Linked DNA regions of Homo sapiens. The protein of the gene in region 1 purifies or fractionates together with the protein of each later gene. This does not show direct contact. Each region holds a gene or a part of one and is shown in the gene's direction. Other genes may lie near its edges. The genes, in order: ENTHD1, PLEKHH2, TXLNG, TRIOBP, SASS6, AGGF1 and REPS1.

What was found.
Region 2: the proteins of ENTHD1 (region 1) and PLEKHH2 purify together in Homo sapiens (affinity purification with mass spectrometry; one large-scale study listed by BioGRID and IntAct). This does not show direct contact.
Region 3: the proteins of ENTHD1 (region 1) and TXLNG purify together in Homo sapiens (affinity purification with mass spectrometry; one large-scale study listed by BioGRID and IntAct). This does not show direct contact.
Region 4: the proteins of ENTHD1 (region 1) and TRIOBP purify together in Homo sapiens (affinity purification with mass spectrometry; one large-scale study listed by BioGRID and IntAct). This does not show direct contact.
Region 5: the proteins of ENTHD1 (region 1) and SASS6 purify together in Homo sapiens (affinity purification with mass spectrometry; one large-scale study listed by BioGRID and IntAct). This does not show direct contact.
Region 6: the proteins of ENTHD1 (region 1) and AGGF1 purify together in Homo sapiens (affinity purification with mass spectrometry; one large-scale study listed by BioGRID and IntAct). This does not show direct contact.
Region 7: the proteins of ENTHD1 (region 1) and REPS1 purify together in Homo sapiens (affinity purification with mass spectrometry; one large-scale study listed by BioGRID and IntAct). This does not show direct contact.

Annotation. Positions count from the first base shown.
Region 1 is NC_000022.11:39,890,961-39,894,915, reverse strand, and holds the start of ENTHD1 (ENTH domain-containing protein 1), read left to right. Parts: upstream 1-1,155; 5' UTR 1,156-1,221; exon of another isoform or gene 1,222-1,932; intron 1,933-3,955.
Region 2 is NC_000002.12:43,643,760-43,647,259, forward strand, and holds part of PLEKHH2 (pleckstrin homology domain-containing family H member 2), read left to right. Parts: intron 1-911; 5' UTR 912-914; coding exon 915-1,037; intron 1,038-3,500. UniProt on the Homo sapiens protein: In the kidney glomerulus may play a role in linking podocyte foot processes to the glomerular basement membrane. May be involved in stabilization of F-actin by attenuating its depolymerization. Can recruit TGFB1I1 from focal adhesions to podocyte lamellipodia.
Region 3 is NC_000023.11:16,824,466-16,827,965, forward strand, and holds part of TXLNG (gamma-taxilin), read left to right. Parts: intron 1-3,500. UniProt on the Homo sapiens protein: May be involved in intracellular vesicle traffic. Inhibits ATF4-mediated transcription, possibly by dimerizing with ATF4 to form inactive dimers that cannot bind DNA. May be involved in regulating bone mass density through an ATF4-dependent pathway.
Region 4 is NC_000022.11:37,770,048-37,773,547, forward strand, and holds part of TRIOBP (TRIO and F-actin-binding protein), read left to right. Parts: intron 1-1,602; coding exon 1,603-1,689; intron 1,690-2,553; coding exon 2,554-2,715; 3' UTR 2,716-2,717; intron 2,718-3,500.
Region 5 is NC_000001.11:100,126,431-100,129,930, reverse strand, and holds part of SASS6 (spindle assembly abnormal protein 6 homolog), read left to right. Parts: intron 1-3,167; exon of another isoform or gene 3,168-3,279; intron 3,280-3,500.
Region 6 is NC_000005.10:77,036,904-77,040,403, forward strand, and holds part of AGGF1 (angiogenic factor with G patch and FHA domains 1), read left to right. Parts: intron 1-2,627; coding exon 2,628-2,816; intron 2,817-3,500. UniProt on the Homo sapiens protein: Promotes angiogenesis and the proliferation of endothelial cells. Able to bind to endothelial cells and promote cell proliferation, suggesting that it may act in an autocrine fashion.
Region 7 is NC_000006.12:138,981,754-138,985,253, reverse strand, and holds part of REPS1 (ralBP1-associated Eps domain-containing protein 1), read left to right. Parts: intron 1-3,500. UniProt on the Homo sapiens protein: May coordinate the cellular actions of activated EGF receptors and Ral-GTPases.

The DNA of each region.
Region 1 (3,955 bases):
AGATGTAAACTCTTCTGTGAAACCTGCCCTTAAATACTCAGTGGCAGAATTAGATGATCTCTTCTCTCTTACTATGCCATACATATCTTGTTACAATCTTCTCTGACGGTGCCTGTCACCTCCACTAGCCTGTAAACGTATCCAGCAGAGGGCTGCTTTTTATCTCCGAGTCCTTACTGTCTGGCACAAAGTGGGTGCTCACGGAAAATCAGTTGAATACATCAACAATTACCCGTCAGTGGCACCTGAAGCCATCAGTCACTGGAGCTACCCCATCATTGTCCATCACACACACTGCTCTTCATAGACTACTATTACATTCTCAGTCCTTTGAGGTGGCAATCACGTGCTGGTGGTATTTCTAGTCAGTTGAAATGACAGTAGTAACACACTTTTAAAAATGTATTCATGTGCCATGCTGGTGCGCTGCACCCACTAACTCGTCATCTAGCATTAGGTATATCTCCCAATGCTATCCCTCCCCCCTCCCCCCACCCCACAACAGTCCCCAGAGTGTGATGTTCCCCTTCCTGTGTCCATGTGTTCTCATTGTTCAATTCCCACCTATGAGTGAGAATATGCGGTGTTTGGTTTTTTGTTCTTGCGATAGTTTACTGAGAATGATGATTTCCAATTTCATCCATGTCCTTAAAACTTAAATAATAATAAATAAAAAAAAAGAGATATTATGCTAGAAGTCTGAGTATTTTACTGATTTTCCATTTTAAGAATAAATTATCATGGCAAATTTTAAGTTACATACATTATTTTATTGTCTACTTTTTAAAAACATTATCAGCTTACCTTGGCATTTTTTTTCTTTTTTTAATGTCCGTTTTTACGTTGTGAACATTTAGTAAATTAATTTATACTCATTTTTATTTAATTAAGAAAGCAGCTAAGAATAAATGCTAGTGTCTGATTAAACTATTTCCCAGATCTCAAAAAAAAAAAAAAATTTATTCTTTGAAAGGAGGATTAGGGCAGTGTCACAGCCCGGCAGCCTGTGAAACGAAGACACTTACCTTCATTCCCCTTGGTACCCTCCAGCTCAGGTATCTGCAACCATCTTGCTTGACGCCCTGACAGGAACTGCACCAGGCCAGAAAGTGAGGAAGCGGAAGTGGGGACCGGCCTGGGCCCTTGAGCCTGGCTGGAGTAGGTGGAATATCCTGGGGAGAGGAAGTTTGGTCGTTGGGCAGCGGCCGACTTTCCTCTCAGGTAACAGCCTCTGCTTGGGAGTGGTGGTGGGGCTCAAGGCGGGTCTGGAAACATCGGTTGCCTTCCCTCCTCCCGTTTCTTGCCGGCACCGTCGGAGTCCAGGTGGGGGCGGGAGGGCGGCGAGGCCATTACCATCCGCAGGAGGTGAAATCCCTGTGGCGTGACGTGACGCCATCACGTCCCTCTCTCCTTCTAGAGGCTTTCCTGAGGTCCAGCCTTCCCCTCCACTGCCGGTTCTCCTAGGGTAATTGCTGGTCTGATTCTCTGTGTGGCCGAACGCCCAGCACCTGGCTCATCTGGTACACAGTCGTCATCTGAAGTGGGGGTTGTATGAATGAAGACGAGGATGCCGAGGAAAGGCCCTGCCCACAGAAAGTTGATTCTTGCTCAGCCTCCACCCGCCATTTTCAAAATTCTTTCCAAAGCATCTCGTTTCTTCCTCCCCCACGGCCCTGTCTGGCGATTATTCTTTGTGTTGCGGATGAGGGAACTGAGACTTAGAGAAGTTGTTAAGTCTTAGTTAGGAAATGGCAAAGCAGGACCTCAAATCATGGCTTTGAATCCTAATTAAAGGAGAGAGATGAGGCATGTGAAGGCCCAGGTGTGAGCACATTGTGAGCGTTCAATGAAGAGTAGCTGTTTACTCCAGGGTGTGAGGACTGTGTCTTGTGCACCTGTTTCTCCATTTCCTAGAATGGAGCCTGCCACATGGTAAGCTCTGGAAGATTATTAGTTGAATAAATTAATGAACACACACTTAGGGCTGGAAAAGATTAGATTCTCTGCCTCTGACAGTATTCTTTTCATCAAAACAGTAACACCTCCTAATGGCATGGTAGTCTCTATAACCATTTTCCCGTAGCATTCTTGGCCAGAGCTCATTTCCTTACGAGTCAAACTCATGTCTATAGGCAGAACCTGTACAAACACAAGAGCTGTTCTTTTCTCATAGTTCCACCTTAAATGCATCTTTTCAGAGATAGCTCTGGACACTCAGCCTCTTAGATGCTATTGTCATTATTGTCCCAAGTCTTTGGATAAAGTCAGTTCAGCTCCTCTGTTCCTTATTCTCAATCCTGAAATCCAAAAACTTTTGGAAATCAACTTTTCCTCCAACTCATTTGGTGGTAAAACTTGGCCTGAGGCCATTTGTAGTCTTTATTCCAAATATTTACATGTTTTTATTGCAGACATGTTAATGTGTTTAATTGTTCAGAGCAGCTCCACACCTTACTGTGGGTATCATGTAATATATGGTATAGACATGGCACTACTCTTGAAAATTCCACCCCTACCACCGCACCCAAAAGAGAATTTCCACAAATCATCTGGCCTCAAAGGATTGGGATAAAAGATCGTGGACCAATAGTTTAATGCCAGCTGATAAATCATTTCCTGTTAGAATTCAGATGAAATGGGGGGAAGGAAACAGCATTGTGAAAGTGGGCAGATCTAAAAATAACACTAAAAGACCTTTTCTACGTAATCATTTGTTTTGCTGGGAATTATTTAGGAGAGAAAGCTCCTTAACTGAATGGTAAGTTTTAATGTGAGGTTCATGTTTTATATTTCTCCACAAAGCTATACAAATGGTAGGTACTCAAGAAATATCTGTTGATGATTTGAAAATATTTGCTCAAAACTATAGAATTTTACTTGACAATTATGAGAGCTAGATTTTATTTATTTATTTTTTTAATATCATGCTTTATAGGAGTTTGTGACCATCTGGGCAACCAATAAGAACTCGTGTCTAAAAAAAAAATTTTTTTTGAGGCCAAGCACGGTGGCTCACACCTGTAATCCCAGCACTCTGGGAGGCCGAGGCAGGCGGATCACTTGAGGTCAGGAGTTCAAGACCACCCTGGTCAATATGGTGAAACCCCGTCTCTACTAAAAATACAAAAAATTAGCTGGGCTTGGTGGCTCATGGCTGCAGTCCCAGCTACTTGGGAGGCTGAGGCAGGAGAATTGCTTGAACCTGGGAGGTGGAGGTTGCAATGAGCCAAGATCGTGCCACTTCACTCCAGCCTGGGTGACAGAGCAAGACCCTATCTCAAAAAAAAAAATAAAATTTTTTTTTTAATTAGTTAGGCTTGGTGGTATGCACCTGTAGTCCCAGCTACTTGGGAGGCTGAGGCAGGGGGATTGCTTGAGCCCAGGAGTTTGCAAGCAGCCTGGGCTACATAGTGAGGCTTTATCTCAAAAAAAAAAAAAAAGTGATTATAATTATAAAGCTATAGAATCAGTGCAGGTTTATCCCAAGGCAGAATCATTCAATCATTGTGTTATTTGCACAACACATGTTTCTTGAGTATCTACTGTTGCTAATTAGCTGTTAGGGATAGGATTACAGTGGTAAATAAGACCGTCAAGGTCCCTGCCCCCAAGGAGCTTCCAGTTTGGTGGTGAAGAAAGGCACTGAGCAAATGACAAATAGGTAAGTACAGATTGTTACAAGTGCAATGAAGGAAATTAACCAGGTTCTGGGGAGACCTAAGTAGTTAGTGAGGTCGGTGAAGACCTCTCAGATTTGTGACATGAAATACCTAACTTCTTCCCTCTATTTCTAAATATTATAGTGAGTTGGGTAGCCAGACAACCAAGATTCAAATGTGGAAATTTACCCTCTTGGGCACTAATTTTGTCTCATGTCAATTTTTGTCACATCACTGTAGTTACAATCTCACAGTTATTTGATGCTGTATGTAAACAGCATTTTCATGTAGTCAGG
Region 2 (3,500 bases), on another chromosome or scaffold:
CTTATTAAAAATAGCCTGATAAAATATTACCAAACATTTAAAACTACTTTTATGTATCTCAGAGCCAGAAACCATCATGCTTCCAAAATCAAGTAACACTTCAAAATTTCAAAACCAATTCCCTTGCATCTTGTCCTCCCCCTTACAGTGCTTCTCCCTGCAATTAATATCCTCCCAAAGGAAAGTTAATATGGAAAACACTAATTCCAGATTTACTTCATATGGCTAACTCCAAATTGCATGTATATGTGCCTTCTCTTACACCAAATAAAAATTATGCAAACTTGTCAGGATCACAACAACTTACCCTTAAATACGCCAAAGGACCTCTGGCTTGAAAGACTTAACCTGGACCTGGCCAAATTGAGAGTGATGATAAGGAATCATTATAGTAAAAATCCAAACCGTGAATTGTAGCAATTGAATCAAACTGTAATACTTCCTTAAATTTCAGAATATGGTAAAATTATGAGCTGATAGATTCAAACAATCTTATCTGTTGGGCACAGCTAAAATAATAACACTCTGTGTTTGTGTGGTGTTGTTATACTGTCTGTTCTACTAGAAATAGCAGTATTTCATTTGTCCCTCACTACATACCCACAAGGAATAATGGTTTGTTGTCAACATGCCCCCTTTTCTGGATTGGCTAAACTGAGACATAGAAAGGTTAAGTAGCACAGTTGGGCTCCATCCAGCCTTAGTCTCCTATTTCCCATTAAGTTCTTTCCATAAGTTCTCACCAGTTCTGGAATTTGTCTTAGAATTTAAAATTTGTACATGGATCTCACTAGACAGTGATTATAATGTGTACATTGGGTAATTTAACAAATTATCCTGAATATTAATTGTGTTGTAGCATTTGAATGTTTTACTTTTTAATTTTTTGTTTATTTATTTAATTTTTTTAGAATATGGCAGAGCTTTCTGAGCCAGAGGGACCAGTAGATTGGAAGGAACGATGTGTAGCTCTGGAGTCCCAACTCATGAAATTTAGAGTTCAAGCAAGCAAGATACGAGAGCTTTTAGCAGAGAAGGTAAGCTTTCTCCCTAAGCTTTGTTATTAAATGTCAGCTATTTAGGGTCTGCTTCATTTATATTAAATAATCTCAGTACTTTGGGGGTTTGATTTAATTTTTGTCAAGTATTTGAAGCTATATTTGGCATATTCTTTTGCCAGTGTTAGGGTAGATTGGACTTTAAGACAAAAAATATTTATTTGCAAATGCTAGTGGCATATGTGAGAACCGTGTATGTTTGGTGAATGTAGAGTTCATTCATTCCAGAGAGAAAGCTATAATTTATTTGATTTTATTAGAGGAGTATGACAGCTTTGATCTACTAAATGTTTACAAAAATCATATTGAAGGGATTATAGAAAAAAATTATCTATTGATAGTAAAATGTGTTTATACCGTATTTGAAAGATGTATCTACTTAGGAATCTGTGTTGACTAAGTATATATTGCTAAATTCTTGCCTGGGCTAGAATTGAGTTTAAAATAATTATATGCTTTTCTAATCATGTAATTAGAATTTCATTTATATTACAGGAATTTTTTGCAAGTATGTGTATAAAACCAATAGATTTGTTCATTTATTCATTCAACAAATATTCTTTGAGGGCTAATTATGTGTTAGACACCGTTCTTAATACTACAGTTACATATATGAACAAGACAACCCATATTCCTATTTCCAGGGAACTTGAATTCTAGACCTCTGCTGTCCCAATGCAGTAGCCACTAGCCACATGTGGATGTTCAACACTTCAGATAAGGCTAGTTCAAATTGAGGTGTGTTGTAAAAGTAGAATAAATACAGGATTTCAAAGTTTTAGCATGAAAGAATGTAAAATATCTCAGCAATAATTTTTATATTGATTATATGTTGAAATGATATTGTGGATATTGGGTTAAATAGGCAATATTAAAATTAATTTTACCCACTTCTTTTTACTTTTTAAACGTGTGTATTAGAAAATTTAAAATCACACCTGTGGCTCATATTATATTTCTATTGGAAAGCACTGTCTGGATGAATGGATGAATGATATTAGTGGTTATTCAGAACTGATCAGAAGAACTTACAGGTGGTTTCTGAAACACTAATCTGCATAATCCTTTTGGGATGGAGATTGGTACATGTATCATATCTCCAAAAAAGGTATTAAATCTTCCTTTCATTGCTAGCCAAGAATCTCTTAGTACAGAATTATTATAATAACATTCAGCAAAACATCATTAAGTCTAAACTTGCATATATATCATCTCAAACTTTTGGGCTTTAACATCTTTTAGGTAGAAGACTAAAGTTATCCTTACTCACTTTGGGTCAAGGATGACTCAGTAATCAATCAGTCAATGAATCCTGAACTTCAATGTGCTTTATTTATTGATATTACATCAAAATTATTAAAATTATAGCTTATAAAATCCCAGTTTGAGTATCTCCAAGTTGGAGAAGTTTTTTCTAACGTAACTTAGTGACTCATCTTTTATCTTTTGCTCTTCTGTCAATGAAAATCATTTTCCATGTTGTACTATGATTTATCCGGTATTTTCCAACAACCCCAACTGCCCCATACAGTGATTTTTGTCAGGATCCACCAATTATGTCCTTATTACTAAACCTCATGGACACTTCCCATTTGTTGCCTAAGCCTCTCAGCAGTTGACACTGTTGACCACAGGATCCCTCTCAAAATTTTCCTGCTTTTCTTGACTTCTGTACTCGTTTGGCTTCCTTATGGACTAAATAGAAGATATTAGCTTATTTGGGTTGCAATTAGTTGACCTTTAAATTCTAAATTTTATGGCAACATTTGTTCTGTTCTTTAGAAAGCATGTTGCAGCAAGTTTCTCAATGAGTGCCCATTTTAAAAATAATAAAAGTGTTGTTATCTCCAGTAATTTCTCTATAAGTAAAATAGCTTTTTTATTATTAATTTTTATGCTATCAGATTAAATGTTTTCTTTGTCAGTGAATGAACATTGATAGGAATGTTATTTCGGAATTGCTGTTCTAGTTGTGGTTTCTTTTTCTTTAATTTTCTTCTTCTTTTTTTTTTTTTGGTCTGTATTTCGTATCTGTGACATAAATTCTTTGGCAGATCTAAGAGATGGAATTATTCTGATGTGTTTTACACATTGGAAAGTAGATAAATGTGCCAAGTTACTCATGGCTTCCCAATAAATATATTCAACACAAAAATATGAATAAGGATTTTCACAATATTTTCTGTTATATTCCATTATGAATATTTTTCTCAGGTTTAAAAATTTCTTTTGGTCTCCATCCATGTTTTAATGAAAATATCTAATATTTATTGATTTATTATGTATAGGATAAGCTCTGTATAGGTATGGTATGATTTATTTAATTCTTATAACAACTTGTGAAGTAATACATTTTATTGTGCTCATTTTATAGATTAGGAAACTGTTGCTTACTATGCCAAGAAATCTTCTAAGTGCTTTAAATATATAAACTTTTAAATC
Region 3 (3,500 bases), on another chromosome or scaffold:
GTAGATATTATTTTGATTTATCAATAGATAAATATTTTTCAAACCTTGAGTTTAGGAAATATTTCTTATAGCACAAAAAGCACTGTCAGAGGAAAGATTGTACAAATTTGCTTTATTGAAATTAAGAACTTTGTTTTCGTCAAAAGATGCCCTGAAAAAAAGTGAGAAGATGGCCAAGCGCGGTGGCTCACACCTGTAATCCCAGCACTTTGGGAGCCTGAGGCAGGCGGATCACGAGGTCAGGAATTCAAGACCAGCCTGTCCAATATGGTGAAAGCCCGTCTCTACTAAAAAAATAAAAAAAAAAAAATTAGCCGGGCATGGTGTTTGCGCGCCTGTAGTTCCAGCTACTCAGGAGGTTGAGGCAGGAGAATCGCTTGAACTGGGGAGGCGGAAGTTGCAGTGAGCCAAGATCGCACCACTGCATTCCAGCCTGGGCAGCAGAGTGAGACTTCATCTCAGAAAAAAAAAAAAAGTGAGACGACATTACAAACTGGGGAGAACATATTTCCAACAAATATAACCAGCAGGCGATTTAGTATCAAGAATATCTAAAGAACACTAATGTGAAAAGGACAAATAGCCCTATGGAAAGCTGGATGAGAGACATGAAAGGGACATTTCATAGAAGTGGAAAAACAAAGATACGAAGATACCTTAACATAAAGGTCCATAAACATTCAAAGAGATGTTCCACCTGATAAGTGATTAGGGAAATGCAAATTAGGACCACAGTGAGATGCCATTTTACGTCTATTGTAGTGGCATAAATGAAGAAATCTGATCATTTTGGAGAGGATGTGGATCTACGTGGTCTCTTATATATTGCTGTTGGGAATATCAATTCACCATTGTCATGTGAAATCAAACATTTAGAAATCATTGCCCAGCAACCTCATTTCTGATGTTTGCACAGAGGAGAAATTCCTGACACGTGTATACCAGGAAACACATGAGAATGTTCATACCACTGTGAGTAATAACAAAACCTAGAGACAGCCCAGATGCCTGTTGATGCAAGAAGATGGATTAATAAAGAGTTTTGTGTGTATGTGTGGTGTGTTTTTATTTTTTATCTACTTGTTTGTTTATTTTTCAGACAGGGTCTCACTCTACCACCCAGGCTGGAGTGCAGTGGCGCAATCATGGCTCACTGTTTATTTTTTAGAGACAGGTTCTCACTTTGTGTGGTATGTTTGTGTGTGTGCTGTGTTTTTAAAAAGTGGAATATTATACAGCCTGTGGGCCAAATGCATCCGAAGTCTGTTTTTACACTGCCCACAAGAATGGTTTTAATTTTTAAGATGTTTAAAAATAAAGAACACGTGACAGAGACCATATGTGGCCTGCAGTGCCTAAAATATTTACTTGCTGGCCCTTTACAGAAAAAATCTGCTAAGTCCTGATCTGCAGCTACACGCCAACAATGTGGATGAGTCCTAGCAATGTAATCGAGTTGCGCTGTCCAAGACAGTAGCCATCAGCCACATGTGGCTTATTAAATTAGTGTAAATTAAATGAAAATTTCAATTCCTCATTTGCACTAGCTACAATAAAGTCAAAACAGCTAAAACCAAAAGGATTTTTTTTTTAGAGAAGTGCACACAGATGAAATGAAATTATATAGAAAGGAAAGCGAAGGAATAATGAACGCCGGATTCAGGATTGCGCTAACCCTGGGTCAGGAAAGGCAGGAGCTCTGCACCCTGGTGAAATTACAGCTAGTATGTGCCGGACCTGCAGCCTCTTAAACTGGGCAGCCGTGTACAGTTCGCAGTAATTTTGCTTTACAAAATTATGCAAAAACAATGATTTTTTTTCCTGCAAGAATTTCAGTAAAGGTGTTTTTAATATCTGTAAATGTGGCTGTAAGGATGCGTGATATGTTTTGGTAGGCCACAAGATGTCACTCTTGCTCTTCAAATTGTGACTCAGCATCATTTTCTTTTTCAGTAAAAGCTTTATTGAAAGGTCAGTAAGGCTGCCATCTTATCTGTTCATGTTGATTTAACCTTGAAACAGACTGATTTGTTCCATACCCAAAACTGCAGCAGTTCTTCTTACAAAGAACCCTGAGTGCTGTTTACTGAGTTTTAGATTCTGATGACTGTTTCAGTATAGTAGCCTGTGGGTGTAAAACTTGATGGTATCGACTCCTAAAGCATCATTTAAAAAAACAAAAACCTGCTGGGCACGGTGGCTCATGCCTGTATTCTCAGCACTTTGGGAGGCCGAGGTGGGCGGATCACCTGAGGTCGGGAGTTCGAGACCAGCCTGACCAACATGGAGAAACCCCATTTCTACTAAAAATACAAAATTAGCTGGGTGTGGTGGCGCATGCCTATAATCCCAGCTACTTGGGAGGCTGAGGCAGGAGAATCGCTTTAACTCTTGTTGCCTAGGCTGGAGTGCAATGGCGCGATCCATTGCACTCCAGCCTGGGCAACTAGAGTGAAACTCCATCTCAAAAAAGCAAAACCCGGCCGGGCATGGTGGCTTATGCTTGTAATCCCAGCACTTTGGGAGGCCAAGGCAGGTGGATCAATTGAGGTCATGAGTTTGAGACCAGTCTGGCCAACATAGGGAAACCCTGTCTCTACTAAAAATACAAAAATTAGCTGGGCGTGGTGGCAGGTGCCTGTAGTCCTAGCTACTCGGGAGGCTGAGGCAGGAGAATCGCTTGAACCCGGGAGGTGGAGGCTGCAGTGAGCCGAGATTGTGCAACAGAATAATAGTCCATCTAAAAAAATGATAATGAAAATAAAAAAATCAAAACCCCAAAGCACAATAAATTGATTGTTAAAATATTTGGATTTCAGCGGGTTTTTTGCCAGGTAGGAAATGATCTAGACAGACATTCACCCAGCAAACAGCAATTCGGGACATGCCTGGCTTTAGCACTGAGTCACTCCTGGCCTTCAACATTGGAGTAGGTTTCAGCTAGAACTGGAGCTGGTTTATTTTCCAAAGGGTTAAGGCTGGAATACTTGGGCAGTGTTCCCAGTGGGCCCAGGAAAATTCAGGGGCAGGAGGTATCCAGTTGAAGGGCATCATCCTTCAAAAAGCACAAGATCATAGCTGGAAGTTGAGGAGCCCATGTTGCTTGTGAGTTGTTGGGTTGAAAGCAGGGAGAAGATCTGTGATCAGTGTCTGAAGTCAGAAAGCTGGCAAAATTCAGGACCCCAGGGGATAGCAGGCCAATACGGAAGTCAAGAAAGCCAGAGATTCAGGCTGCTGGGTTCAAATCCCACCTCACCCCTTACTGATTATCTGTACTAATTAAAGAATGTTAGGCAACTTATTAATGTCTCCAGGCTTATACATTTCTTCTATAAAACCTGGATAATAAAGGGTTGTGAAAATTAAATCTGTCTAAAGGATTTTTTTTTAAAAAAGAAAAAGATGGATTATTTTCTGCTGCCCTAAATTTGCTTACTTTTTTGTCACAACTGGAAGAGGAGAGAAGAGAAGGGTGGCAGTGTAGCATGGCATGAAACAAT
Region 4 (3,500 bases), 2.1 Mb from region 1:
TTTTTTTTTTTTTTGAGACAGAGTTTTGCTGTTGTTGCCCAGGCTACAGTGCAGTGGCGCGATCTCGGCTCACCACAACCTCCGCCTCCCAGGTTAAAACGATTCTCCTGGCCGGGCGCGGTGGCTCACGCCTGTAATCCCAGCACTTTGGGAGGCCGAGGCGGGCAGATCACGAGGTAGGAGATCAAGACCATCCTGGCTAACACAGTGAAACCCCGTCTCTACTAAAAATACAAAAAAATTACCCGGGCGTGGTGGCGGGCGCGGTGGCGGGTGCCTGTAGTCCCAGCCACTCCGGAGGCTGAGGCAGGAGAATGGCATGAACCTGGGAGGCGGAGCGTGCAGTGAGCCGAGATCGTGCCACTGCACTCCAGCCTGGGTGACAGAGCGAGACTCCGTCTCAAAAAAAAAAAAAATATTAAAAAAAAAAAGCGATTATCCTGCCTCAGCCTCCCAAGTAGCTAGGATTACAGGCATGTGCCACCTCGCCTGGATAATTTTGTATTTTTAGTAGAGACAGGGTTTTTCCATGTTGGTCAGGCTCTTCTCGAACTCCCAACCTCAGGTGATCCGCCCACTTCGGCCTCTCAAAGTGTTGGGATTACAGGCGTGAGCCACCGTGCCCAGCCGATATTTTATTTCTCTTTTTTTTTTTGAGACGGAGTCACTCTGTCACCCAGGCTGGAGTGCAGTGGCACCATCTCGGCTCACTGCAAGCTCCGCCTCTCGGGTTCATGCCATTCTCCTGCCTCAGCCTCCCGAGTAGCTGGGACTACAGGCACCCGCCACCACACCTGGCTAATTTTTTGTATTTTTAGTAGAGACGGGGTTTCACCATGTTAGCCGGGATGGTCCCAATCTCCTGACCTCGTGATCCGCCCGCCTCTGCCTCCCAAAGTGCTGGGATTACAGGCGTGAGCCACCGCTCCTGGCCCCAATATTTTATTTCTTCAACAAACACTTAGGTGAGGCTCACTCTGTACCTAGAAATTCTGGAAGCCCTTTTTGTCTGTTAACTCATCTAATCTTCCTGACAGCTCCATACATTAGCTACTATGACTGTCCCCATTTACAGATGAGGAAACTGAGGCACAGGAAGGTCAAGTACCTTACCAAAGCTTTTATAGCTGGACTGGGATTTGAACCAGGCAGTCTGGCTCCAGTCTGAGCTTTTAAGCCTCCCCAGTCCTGGCTGAACTTGTTTCCTCCTTGGTCAAGTCAGCAGCACCTAGCCCTCGGGGTTGGGGAGGGGTTAATGAGGTGCCTTGTGGAGTGGTTCAGCCTGCTCAGGTTTATGTAGGGCTTCTTTTCATCCATCTCACTCCCGAGGTGAGAGCCTGGTGCTGCATGAGGGCTGCAGCAGACTTGACCGTGAGATATCCACTCACACGGGCTGGACAGGGGTGAGAGTAAGGGAAGGCAAAGCAGGGGAATCGGAGAGGGCTTCCTGGAGGAGTCCGCCTCCAGGATGTAGAGGGTTTTTGTGCAGATAGGGGCTGCATTCTAGGGGCCTGAGGCAGAGAGAACCCGGGCTGCAGGGCACTATGGGCCAGGGTAGCTCTGGCTTCTGGCCCTGGGTCAGTCCAGCACCTATATCCCCAGGTGCTGCTTCGCGTAAAAGAAAACGAACTCCAGTACCTAAAGAAGGAGGTGCAGTGCCTCCGGGACGAGCTCCAGATGATGCAGAAGGTAGGTCCTTCCGCTGGGCTGGGGGCCGTCGGGGACTCTGGAGCCATCTGGATGCCATCCTGTGAGCACCTGCTCTGTGCCAAGCCCTCCACTCGCTTCATCCTTCCTCAGGCTCTCCTGTGCTTCTCCCATGTAGGTGTCATCATCCCCATTCACTGACAGGGAAACTGAGACTAAGAAAGGGGAAGTGACTTCCCCAAGGCTGTACTTGGCTTCTGTTTATTTAGCATTATTTAATTTATTGATTATTATTGAGCACCTACTATATCCTGGGCACTGTGCTAGGTGCTGGGAAGACAGATGTGAACAAAATAACCCCAAATCTCTGCTGTGGGGAGCTTGCACTCCAGTGAGAATAACCACGTTGCTAGGAGTTGGGTGGGTCAGGGTTCAGCCCAGGTCTGAGTCTGCAGCCCGCCTGGCCCACCCTTGGCTGCTATGTCACTGCCTGGTGCGCTCTGTCAGTTTGGGGCAGGAAGTGGACATGTTGGTGGCTCTGTAAGTGCACGTGAGCCAGACCGTGTTTACCGCACTTGAAGAACAGGTGGCGTGAACTCACAGGAAGGGCCCGAGCACCCAGCCAGGCTGACCTGGTTCTCATCCCAGCCACTCACTGCCCTGCGGTCTTGGTCAAAATCTTCTCCCCCGAAACAGGATGAGGATGACAATGACGCCTGTGTCCCTGGGTGGTACCAGGGAGGTGGGAGGGGTAAGCCCAGAACCCACGGCCATCTTGGGGAGCCACCTGGAGGGATGAAGCGAGGTATCTGCGGGGAGGTCTGGCTGCTGGTGCTGCCCATGTGCCCGGTTGGCAGGGCTGGAGGGAGAGACTTCATGCCCTCATACCTGCCTCCTGCCCCCCAGGACAAGCGCTTCACCTCGGGAAAGTACCAGGACGTCTATGTGGAGCTGAGCCACATCAAGACACGGTCTGAGCGGGAGATCGAGCAGCTGAAGGAGCACCTGCGTCTTGCCATGGCCGCCCTCCAGGAGAAGGAGTCGATGCGCAACAGCCTGGCTGAGTAGAGGTGGATGCCGAGGCGTGTGCCCTGCAGGGTGGGCAGGGGCTGAGGCTCTCCCACACCCGGGACTCCCTGGACCACCCCAGCCAGGCCACTTCCTTCTTCTGGCCTCCAATTCCCGTTCTGTAAAAAGGACAATGAAACCAGCAACACGGGGTTGTTGCAGAGATCCCATCAGACCCGGGCCACAGGCTGCTTCATCAGCTTAAGCCTGTTCCTCCAGAGCTGGGCGGCACAGTGCAGAGCCACAGCCTACTCAGTGCACCCCCCTTCTTGGGGCTGGAGGCAAATGCAGCGTGCACATCCCTGACCCCCACAGTGAATCTCCACTGAGCTTCACACACACACATCGCACGCTGAGGCCGGGCTTCTATCCCAGTTAGTCTTAACACTCCTTCTTGACTTAGCAGGGCTCAAAGTGGTTGGTTGGTTGGTTGGTTGGTTGGTTGGTTGGTTGGTTGGTTGGTTTTGGTTGCTTTGAGAAAGGTCTTACTCTGACACCCAGGCTGGAGTGCAGTGGTGCAATCACGGCTCACTGCAGCCTCAACCTCCTAGGCTCAAGGGATCCTCCCACCTCAGCCTTCTGAGTAGCTGGGACCACAGGCCCTCACCACCATGCCCAGATAATTTTTGCACTTTTTGTATAGGTGGGGTTTCGCCGTGATTTCCCAGGCTGGTCTCGAACTCCTGGGCTCAAGCAATACACCTGCCTCAGCCTCCCAAAATTCTGAGATTACAGGTGTGAGCCGCTGCACCTGGCCAAAGTGTTCTTATTTTTGCTTTTTCAAC
Region 5 (3,500 bases), on another chromosome or scaffold:
AGTAATATAAGTACACTAAAGTCAGAGAAGAAGGAAATTCAGTTGAGGACAGTGGTAATGATCAGGGAACTTCATCTGGTGGAAAATTATGCAAAATTTTGGAACCCATGATTTGACACTAATCTGCCTTTTCAGTTTTGTTTCCTAAGCTTATCTCTCCAATATGAAAGTCATACAAGCATTCTTGTTACCTTCTGAATATACCTGATACTCATTCTATACTATTACCCCTGCTGTTCCTTGTGCCTCAAATGCTTTTTTCTTTCATAACTTTCAGGTATGTCTTAAATCCTTTCACTATAAGGACCCTTCAAAGTTGCCTAAGTTGAAATGAATTGCCATTATTCAGTTATTAGATAGTGTGGTGTAGGTGAAAGATCTGAGTTTTCATTTGGGCTCTGTAATGTGACCTTAAACCATTATTTGGGCCTTAAGTTCTTCTTTTGTAAAATAAATAATATTTACTTATCAAGATTATTGTTAAATAAGATGATATATGTAGAATACCTGGCAGGTACTCAGTAGTGTTGGTAACCCTTCCCTCCCCTCTCATGGAGCCCTAAAATGCAATCAGAAGCAAATCTAGCAAAAAGTCATTAATCTCATCTCAATTTGAGGACAGAGACCATGGTTTTTTTTGTTTTGTTTTGTTTGTGTCATCCTATGTTCAAAAATTATTATTTTTTTTTTTTTAGAGAGAGGCTGTCACTCTGTTGCCCAGGCTAGAGTGTTGTGTCATAATCATGGCTTACTGTAATCTCAAACTCTTGGTCTTAAGCTCTCCTGCTTCAGCTTCCAGAGTACATGAAACTACAGGCATGCACCACCATGCCTGGCTCATTTTATAAATTTTTTGTAGAGATAGGATTTTGCTATGTTGCCCATGCTGGTCTTGAACTCTTGGCCTCAGGTGATCCACCCACCTCAGCCTCCCAAAGTGCTGGGATTACAGATGTGAGCCACTGTGCCAAGCCCCTGGACCATGTTTATTTCTGTTTGTATCCCTAGCACCTGGCACAATACCTGGCTTAAAGTACCTTTTATTTGTTTGATTGATAGTTTAAGAGCACAGCTACTGGGTGTCAGAGATGGCCTAGAATCCAGTTGTGCTAAAGCAAGCCTGATGTTTAGAATACTTTTTATTTAGAAGAACTCATAACTAAATCTAATGTCATTAGTATTAGACATCTATTGAGTACGACATCTATTGAGATGAGAAATAACATTTTATTGAGTTTTTATTGTTTTATATTGCTCTTATGACATTAACCATTATAAGGGAAAAAATAAGATTTGTGATTTTAGTTAGCGTATCCTCTGAAAGCTTGTATTTTTCTACAGCATATTTCTAGGGATGTTTTTTAACTAAGCATGGGGAATTCGTTTAACTTACAGGCCTTCCGTTTTTTCTTTCAACATCTAATGTATATAGGCATTTGGAATATATGCAACAATATCATTAATATGATTGGTAAATTGTCATAGTAATATAACTCTTCCAGGATTATGTAAAGAACACTTTGATAAGTGAATTCTTCTTGTACTTTTTGCAAATATATGAAGTATGACAGGACTTTTAAAACCGTAAAACACCGTCTAGGTGCAGTGGCCCACGCCTGTACTGCTATCACTTTGGGAGGCTGAGGTGGGCAGATCACTTGAGGTCAGGAGTTTGAGACCAGTCTGGCCAACATGGTGAAACCCCATCTCTACTAAAAATACGAAAATTAGCCAGGTGTGGTGTTGTGCCCCTGTAAACTCAGCTACTCAGGAGACTGAGGCAGGAGAATCGTTTGAACCTGGGAGGCGGAGGTTGCAGTGAGCCAAGATCGCACCATTGCACTCCAGACTGGGTGACAGAGCGAAACTCTGTCTCAAAAATAAATAAATAAATAAATAATTAAAATAAAAATAAACTGTAAAGCACCATAAAAAGTTAAATACCAACTGCAGTATCATACCACTATGGCATTTATACTAGAGAAAACTTCAGAAGATGAAAACCAAACATAATGATGTAGAGCTAAAAAGGTTTTCACAAACCTTCTAGTTGAATCCACTTATCTTACAAGTTCGGAAACTGAGTCCCCCCCTCCCCCACCCCACCACGAAAGCTTAATCTTGCTGTGTTGCCCAGACTGGACTTGAACCCCTGGGCTCAAGCTATCCTCCTGCCTCAGCCTCTGAAGTAGCCAGCACTACAGGTGGGAGGCACTGTGCCCAGCTCAGGAAAGCTTAAATGGAATTGGAGTAACACTCTAATCTGTTTCACATATGTTGCTTTAGATACTAGAAAAATAGCAACAGTGTATTCTCTTGTTTTGAAAATAATTCTTCCTCTCTCTGGTGTAAACCAGTGCTTCTTGTTCCTTTTCAGAAAACAGATACAAGTTATGAGGTAACATTTAACCTTATTGTACAAACGGAGATTTAGCATCCAATCATATGTTCAACAAGAAACTTAACTAAAATGACACATTTTAAACCCATATAAAATTACAAGTCAGCATTAAAAAATCTAAACAATTGAATCTAGCCTTGATCAACTGTTTCCAAGTTTTCCTATCAGTACTCAATTGCTGTTTATACTTTTTACTTGTGTAGTAGATAAGCAATAGTGTGGAAAAGGTTTAAAAGAAGTCCTTAGAAGAAAAACTTAAAATTGAACAAATTCTATTTGTTAGTTTACTTTTTTCTACCTGCACATCAAAGAAAGGCCATTGTTATTTAATTCTGGCAGAATAGTTTGAGAAGTACTTGTGCATAGGTATTTTTTACTAATTTCTCCCTTTATTTTCTGAATTATATAAGCATTTGTGCTCTATTTGATTAATGTTTATGAGCACTTTCACCTATATACCTCTGTCCAATTCTGGATTCTCTAAGATACAGCATAGGATGTGGAACACTGTGGTCTCTCCCTCTCAGGGCTTAAAGTTACTTTACTCAAGGATAAAATAGGTGTAATAAACTTGTTGATAATACTTCTGTGGTTTTATTACATAAAGAATATATTAAGCAGATTTAATTCGTGGATGTGAAAATACGTTTTTGTATGAATAAATGTAGGGAATATGTTATTTCCTTGATTTTAAACATTCAAAGCATTCTAATATCGCTTCACATATTAAGTTTTTATTTTATTTTATTTTATTTTTTGAGACAGGGTCTCTGTTGCCCAGGCTGGTGTGCAGTGGTGCAGTATTGGCTCACTGCAGCCTCTGCCTACCAGGTTCCGCATTTCTCCAACCTCAGCCTCCCAAATAGCTGGGACTACAGGTGGGTGCCACCACGCCTGGCTTGTTTTTGTATTTTTTGTAGAGATGAGGTTTTGCCGTGTTAACAGGCTGGTCTCCAACTCTTGACCTCAAGTGATCTGCCTGCTTCAGCCACCCAAAGTGCCAGGATTACAGGTGTGAGCCACTGCGACGGGCCACATACTAAGTTTTTAAAATGCAATCAGTCTCTCATTAATCAGTTTGATTACATGACATGGTAAT
Region 6 (3,500 bases), on another chromosome or scaffold:
ATTTTTTGTATTTTTAGTAGAGGCAGGGTTTCGCCATGTCGGCCAGGCTGGTCTCGAATTACATCTCAGACCTTTTAATACTGTATGATACATACTCAGTGCCTGATATCAAATATTAAACCCTAAGCCGAAGTAAGAAAGCAAAAAGCTGCATTTAAAATTATATTTGACTCAAAACTATTTGACAGAAGAATTCTAAAATAGCTTATGATGCTACACTTCTAAGTTTTTAAAATAAGGTTAAGGTTAAAATAAATTTTATTGTGATTATTATAGACAATGTTTTGGAGAAGTCTTTATGTATAAAAATAACAGACAAAAATACTGGAGCTTTTGTTAATAAAAGCAGATAGTTAACTACATCGTAAATATTTTAGAACCTAAACCAGTATTTTTTTCATAGAATTAATAGAGAAGTGAGGTTAATTTTAGGCTTGGAATGAGAATTTTAAAAATTATATCAAATACTTTATGAATTCATTTTAGGCCACATAAGGAGACTTCTTTCTTGAATTCTTAGTAGTATGTTTATTATTAGCCAGTGTTTTATATCCTGTGCCTTTTAACTATTTCACTTTAAACATTCAGTCTGTTGGCTAGGCATGGTGGCTCACTCCTTGTAATCCTAGCACTTTAGGAGGCTGAGGCAGGTGGATTGCTTGAGTCGAGTGCAAGACCAGCCTGGGCAACACAGTGAGACTCTTTCTATAAAAAATTTTAAAAGTCAGCTGGATGTAGTGGCTCACCCTCTAGTCCCAGCTACTCAGGAGGCTGATGTGGGAGCGTCGCTTGAGCTGGGAAGATGGAGGCTGCAGTGAGCCATGATTGCACCACTGCCCTCCAGACTAGGTGACAGAGTGAGACCCTGTCTCAAAAAACAAGCAAACAAAAATCAATCTGTTAGCAATGAGAACTAGGGAATTAATATGGGATCTAAAATATAATGGACCACTGACTAGGATAGAACCAGAAAATAAAGTTCTTGATTTATAATACAGTGTTATAGCTGTTGAAGTCTAATAATTATATTTCGTTGAAGATTTGATGACAATGATAGAACTCAGTCACATACCTCAAACTCAAGAATCTAGTAATGTAATCTGGTTTTCTGAGGAATTATAGAATGTGGTACACAAAAGTGGAGTTGACGTTCATCATTCCTGTTACTGGAACTATTGTTATCTAGAGAACATAAGATAATACTAAATATCTCAATTAACATAAGAGGTGTCATTAGTTTGTCAATCTGCATATGGTAAACTGTAAGTCCTTTGTAAAGAGAGGGTTTTCTTTCATGGGGGTTGCTAATTGACAATGCTAATTAATAACCAGGAAATTAATGTTTAAACACTTATCCAAAGGGAGTAGTTATTTAGTTTCTAGGAAAACAATAGTTTCAAGTAGACATTAGTCTTTGTCAATCTTCTGCCTGTCTTTCTGTATCTTTTCTCTTGACATCAGTTGTTTTGTAAATGGTTAGTACGTTCTGCAGGTTATATTTCTGAGTAAATTAGGAACTTCATTGTGTTGCCATTTTCATTGTGCTAATATTTTAATAAATTTTTTTTATATTTTGAAAATGTCTATATTTTGGACTGATAAACAGATTTAAAAGGTTTGAATTATAAAAGTTCCATTATTACTAGAAATAAAGATTGGAAAGCCTCCACTCAGTTTCTTAGTTAAGAGAAAGATGGTGAGAAATCTAAATATTTTTTGTAAGAGATCTGCAAAATGCATGGATTAAAGACAATAAATTGCAAGTGTCAATAGTTAGAAAAATAAATTATTCTTTTTCAGGAAGTTTTAGTTGCTCAATCTCAGTACATTAAAGATGTTTCCGGGTCTGGTCTGCATGGATTTAGGATGTAAATAAAATATAGACTGTTCAATTAAATTTGGTTTTAGAGTACTGGCCAGTATATCATAAATATAGGTGATTACCTAATTTTATCTTTCTGGTTTTTAAATCTGTAATTTGCCAAATTCATTTATGCATGGTTGCTTGTAAGTCTTATTTACTATAGAACTGATTAATTAGTGGAGACAGTTTATTGATTGCATTTTATAGAATGTTATTTTTTGGTATGCATGAACTTTATTTTCAAAATTTTCTTCTCTAATTTTAAGTTATGAACATCAAAAGACAAATCTTTGTTTTATGACATTGAGAGGAGGGTTTAGGGGTTTATACTGCCACACCATTATTGTGCAGTCATTAAGAATCAGGAGTCTAGAATTGCGCTCATATGGTCAGCTTTTTCTTATGCTTGCTTTAGTTTTCATGCCTTTAAAAGTATTATCAATTTTTTTAATGTATTAAGTGGAACCATATGAAATTGCTGTTTCTTATAAGTTAAAAGTGGTCAAGTATTGACAATTTTATATGATTAAATTTAATATTTAGATTTACTTGTTTCTCACACTAGGAAAATTAGATCAGTTATTGAATGGTAAAGTATTTTGGAAGATTAAAGCATTTTTTATTGTTATCTTTAATTCATTGTCTTCTGAAAATACTATAGTTGTTCAAAGAAATATTTACCACATTTGAATGTATTTGGCATTTTCGTTAAGTTTATTTTATCTTACATGAATAGAATTTATTTTTTTCTTGACTTTCAAAGGAAAATCAACTCTATTATGATCCTTCCACTGGAATTTATTACTATTGTGATGTGGAAAGTGGTCGTTATCAGTTTCATTCTCGAGTAGATTTGCAACCTTATCCGACTTCTAGCACAAAACAAAGTAAAGATAAAAAATTGAAGAAGAAAAGAAAAGATCCAGATTCTTCTGCAACAAATGAGGAAAAGGTAATGTCTTTACAATTTTAAAAATTGACATAATGGTGATAACATGATAATTAAGACAAAATTTTTTATGAAACTGACAATCATTCAATAACTCTGCATTTCAAACATACCCATTAAGATAACCTAGGAAAGTTTAGATGGAGCAAACATGGACTTTTTCATAAACTCTGTCACTAGAAATAGAAAGCATTTCTTAAAATTTGAAGGAGATAGATTAAGGTCAGATAAAATATCTCGTATATAGTTTGGAAGAAGAATTCAGATCCTCAGTTGATAAGTTGATGTCAATGCACAGTTCATAATAAAAGATAAACACAGTTTATAGGTAGACATAGATACAGGTTCAACTTTCTTAGTTATGTGGAGCAATTTTTTACTTACTAGGACAATTTTTTTTTTTTTTTTTGAGACAGAGTTTCACTCTTGTTGCCCGGGCTGGAATGCAATGGCGTGATCTCAGCTCACCGCAACCTCCGCCTCCCAGGTTCAAGTGATTCTCCTGCCTCAGCCTCCCGAGTAGCTGGGATTACAGGCATGCACCAACACGTCTGGCTAATTTTTTTGTAATCTTAGTAGAGACGGGGCTTCTCCATGTGGTCAGGCTCGTCTCGAACTCCTGACCTCAGCTGATCCTCCTGCCTCTGCCTCCCAAAGTGCTGAGATTACAGGCATGAGCCACCGCAC
Region 7 (3,500 bases), on another chromosome or scaffold:
TTAATTCAGATGGACTTTAAATTAGGGTGGAGTGAGGGGAATGGAATTATGAGGGCTTCCAGGCAGAGAAAAGTGATCAGAAGTGGAAAGTGTAGGAGCCTTTTCAAGGACTAGTGTTTTCGGGATAACAGAATATAAAATTAGAAAGAGGCCATATTGGGAAAGACTCTGAAGAAGGGCAGCAGATAACGATATTTCAGCAAGCAATGGAGACCCATTGAAAAGTTTTTGACTTTGAGTGGCAGAAAGGGTAAGGAATGACACTCTTTCAGTGGTCTGGATTGGGTGCTAGGTCATGGACATCCAACCAGGGTGACAGCAGTAGAATAGAAAGGGAGAGACTGGATATGTTATTGAAGGACTGCTGGGTAGCCACTATATGAGGTGCTTTGTGGAATAATGTTTAATTGAGGCCAGATTATCAAGGTTGGATGGAGAGCTTTGAACTAATTGTGTAGGTAACAGGGAGTGGTAGATTTAAGAGAAATGACTCATAAAGCAGTGCTTTAGGAGTCGTTTGTCAGGGCCACAGGAATTAGAGGAATAAAACTGTAGACTTAACTTGGGGGCTGATTTTGTATGGCAGATACGAAGTGAGAAACTGGGCCAGTGGTACTCAAACATGGGAATGAAGGTGACAATGGGGAAGAGGCATTTGGCAGTGTCTAGAGACATTTTGATTGTCATAACTAGAGGGGAGAGAGCAGTTCTACTGGCATCTAGTGGGTAGAGGCCAGAAATGTTGCTAAACATCCTGCAGTGCACAGGACAGCCTCCACAAGCATTATGTGCCCAAGATGTCAATAGTGCTGAGACTGAGAAACCCTAACCTGGACTATAGTGGTGGGAGTGGGACAAAAAATCAGATATGGGCCGGGCACAGTGGCTCATGCCTGTAATCCCAGCACTTTGGGAGGCTGAGGCAGGTGGATCACCTGAGGTCAGGAGTTGGAGACCAACCTGGCCAACATGGTGAAACCCTTTCTGTACTAAAAATACAAAATTAGCCGCATGTGGTGGCGCATGCCTGTAATCCCAGCTACTCCAGAGGCTGAGGCAGGAGAATCACTTAGAACCTGGGAGGAGGAGGAGGTTGCAGTGAGCCAAGATCGCGCCACTGCACTCCAGCCTAGATGACAGAGCAAGACGCTGTCTCAAAAAAAAAAAAAAAAAAAGAGAGAGAGAGAGATGGTAGAGATTATGAAGGTAAACGTGATAGGCCTGGGTTATTTGGCAGTGTTTTGGTGAGAATACAGTGGGGCAAGGATTATTCTTTGGACACCACTCACAGTTAGAAAAGGGGCAGGAAGAGGGCTTACTTTTTAAAAGAGACAATGATGAGTTTGGTTTCAGACATTCTTAGATGGCAATTCAGATCTCTTGGAGACAGTGGGAAGTGGGTGGAGATTTGTCCACCCCAACTGCTGGTTCTTACAGCAGTTCAGGTTCAGAGGTTCGGGATTTCTTCCTCTGTTTTGCTCACCTAAGTGTTTAGGGACGGGAGACAGTGTCACATAGACTGGGCATGCACATACATATCAGGACCTTGGTTGGTACAGTAGTTTTCGGTGTTTGTTAGTAAAAGTTAGGAGGAGACTGAGTCATCTGGGGGCATGAGTGTAGAGAACAAATAACACCGAGTCCAGAACCAAACGAGGAAGGAGCTGGCATTTATCGAGTGCCTATTATGTTCCTTTAACCAGGCAAATCATTTTCATGGAAGAACTCATTTGATTCTTGCAACAACCTTGTGAAGTGGGTGTTATTCTTGTTTATTTTTATTTTTATTTTTATTTTTTGAGACAGTCTCTCGCTCTGTTGCCCAGGCTGGAGTGCAGTGGTGCAATCTCGGCTCACTGCAACCTCCACCTCCCAGGCTCAAGCGATTCTTCTGCCTCAGCCTCCTGGGTAGCTGGGACTACAGGCATGCGCCACCACCACACTCGGCTAATTTTTGTATTTTTAGTAGAGTCGGGGTTTCACCATATTGGCCAGGCTGGTCTTGAACTCCTGACCTTGTGATCTGCCCACTTCAGCCTCCCAGAGTGCTGGGATTACAGGCTTATTCTTGTTCACTAAGAACTTGATAGCAGATAAGTTAAATAATTTATTTGTGAATATTCGTATCTCTCCCTTACTATTATTCACGTCCCAGCTCTTACCTTCTCTGGTCATGTGGTTTGGGAGCAGGGTGAGGAATAAAATTCAGTTGGTCTGATTTTGACTTCCCCATAGTTCTTATGAACAGTAGGGATTTTAGAATATCTGATTTTGTGTTACGTATCAACTTACTCCTTTGCGTAGTAAGTAGTTTAATGTATGATGATGTCTTGAAACACAGCCACTTCAGAGAAAGAGGGAGATTCTTGTAGTTGGTGTTCAGGGCACACACAAATACAATTTTTCTTTATTACCACTGTCAGATGTTTTAAGGTGTGTTCATTACAGTTGCTTTTGAATAGCAGAGGAAAATCTATTCTGAGTTTAAGAGTTTGTTTTTGAAGACAGAATGTCAATAGACAAAGTGAAGGAGTGCATGCTTTGTAAAATTATGCTCCATGCCACATAATAGCAAGATGAGGGGGAGAAAAATCTGGCTCATAGGATTTAATCATGAGGAATTTTGCTGTCTGCCGAGCAAGAAAATATTCAGTGTTGTGGCTTAAAAGTCAGCTTTTCCCAAAGTAGTTTATTTTGTTTTTTAAAGATTAGGAAAGATATACTATTTACCACACTAATCAGAATGTTTTCTTAGCTTTTACCAAAAGCTTCTGTTTTGGGAAATGTCTTAAAACTTCATACAGACTTTGAATGCATAATAGATTGATAAAGGGTTCTAGTACTAACTGTTCTTTCATTGAGGTTTGTAAGCAATGTACCCTGTTAATGAAGCTGAAAATCTTTAGATCATTTGTGTAGAGCAATATCTTGTTAGAATATTTGCATAACACATAAATTTAATGGGGAAAAGCAATAACAGTGAAACAAACCATTTTGTTTTTGTCTTGAAACTTGTTTAAATCAATTACAAGATCTGGCATTAGTGATAAGTTTAAAAATAGGAAAGCAGAGCTCATTTCTGTGTTGAAAGTTATAAACTTAATAAGTCTCAGGTTTGTTATTCTGGAGTAGTGGTTTTTAGTTCTGAATCACTAAAATAATTGTAATAAACTACAGAAATAATCTTGCCATAATCACTTACCTATACACAGTTGAAAAAGATACTGTTTGTGAAAGAAGTCACAGTCAATGTGTTTCTGTAGTGTCCTATTTATTTACTTTTAAAATTTCTGTCTTCTTGAGTTTCTTGTGCTAGTTTCAGTCATTTTGTTTGTTTGTTTGTTTGTTTTAATCAATAGCCCAGAGTTAGAGTTTTAGTATATTGGGAATTCGTGCCAAACATTTGATGGAGCGACACAAGAGCATGAGAAGCTGGTATAAAGAGCACTAACTGTGGGAGGCAAGTTCCAGTTCTGGCATCAGCTAACTTTGTAACCCTG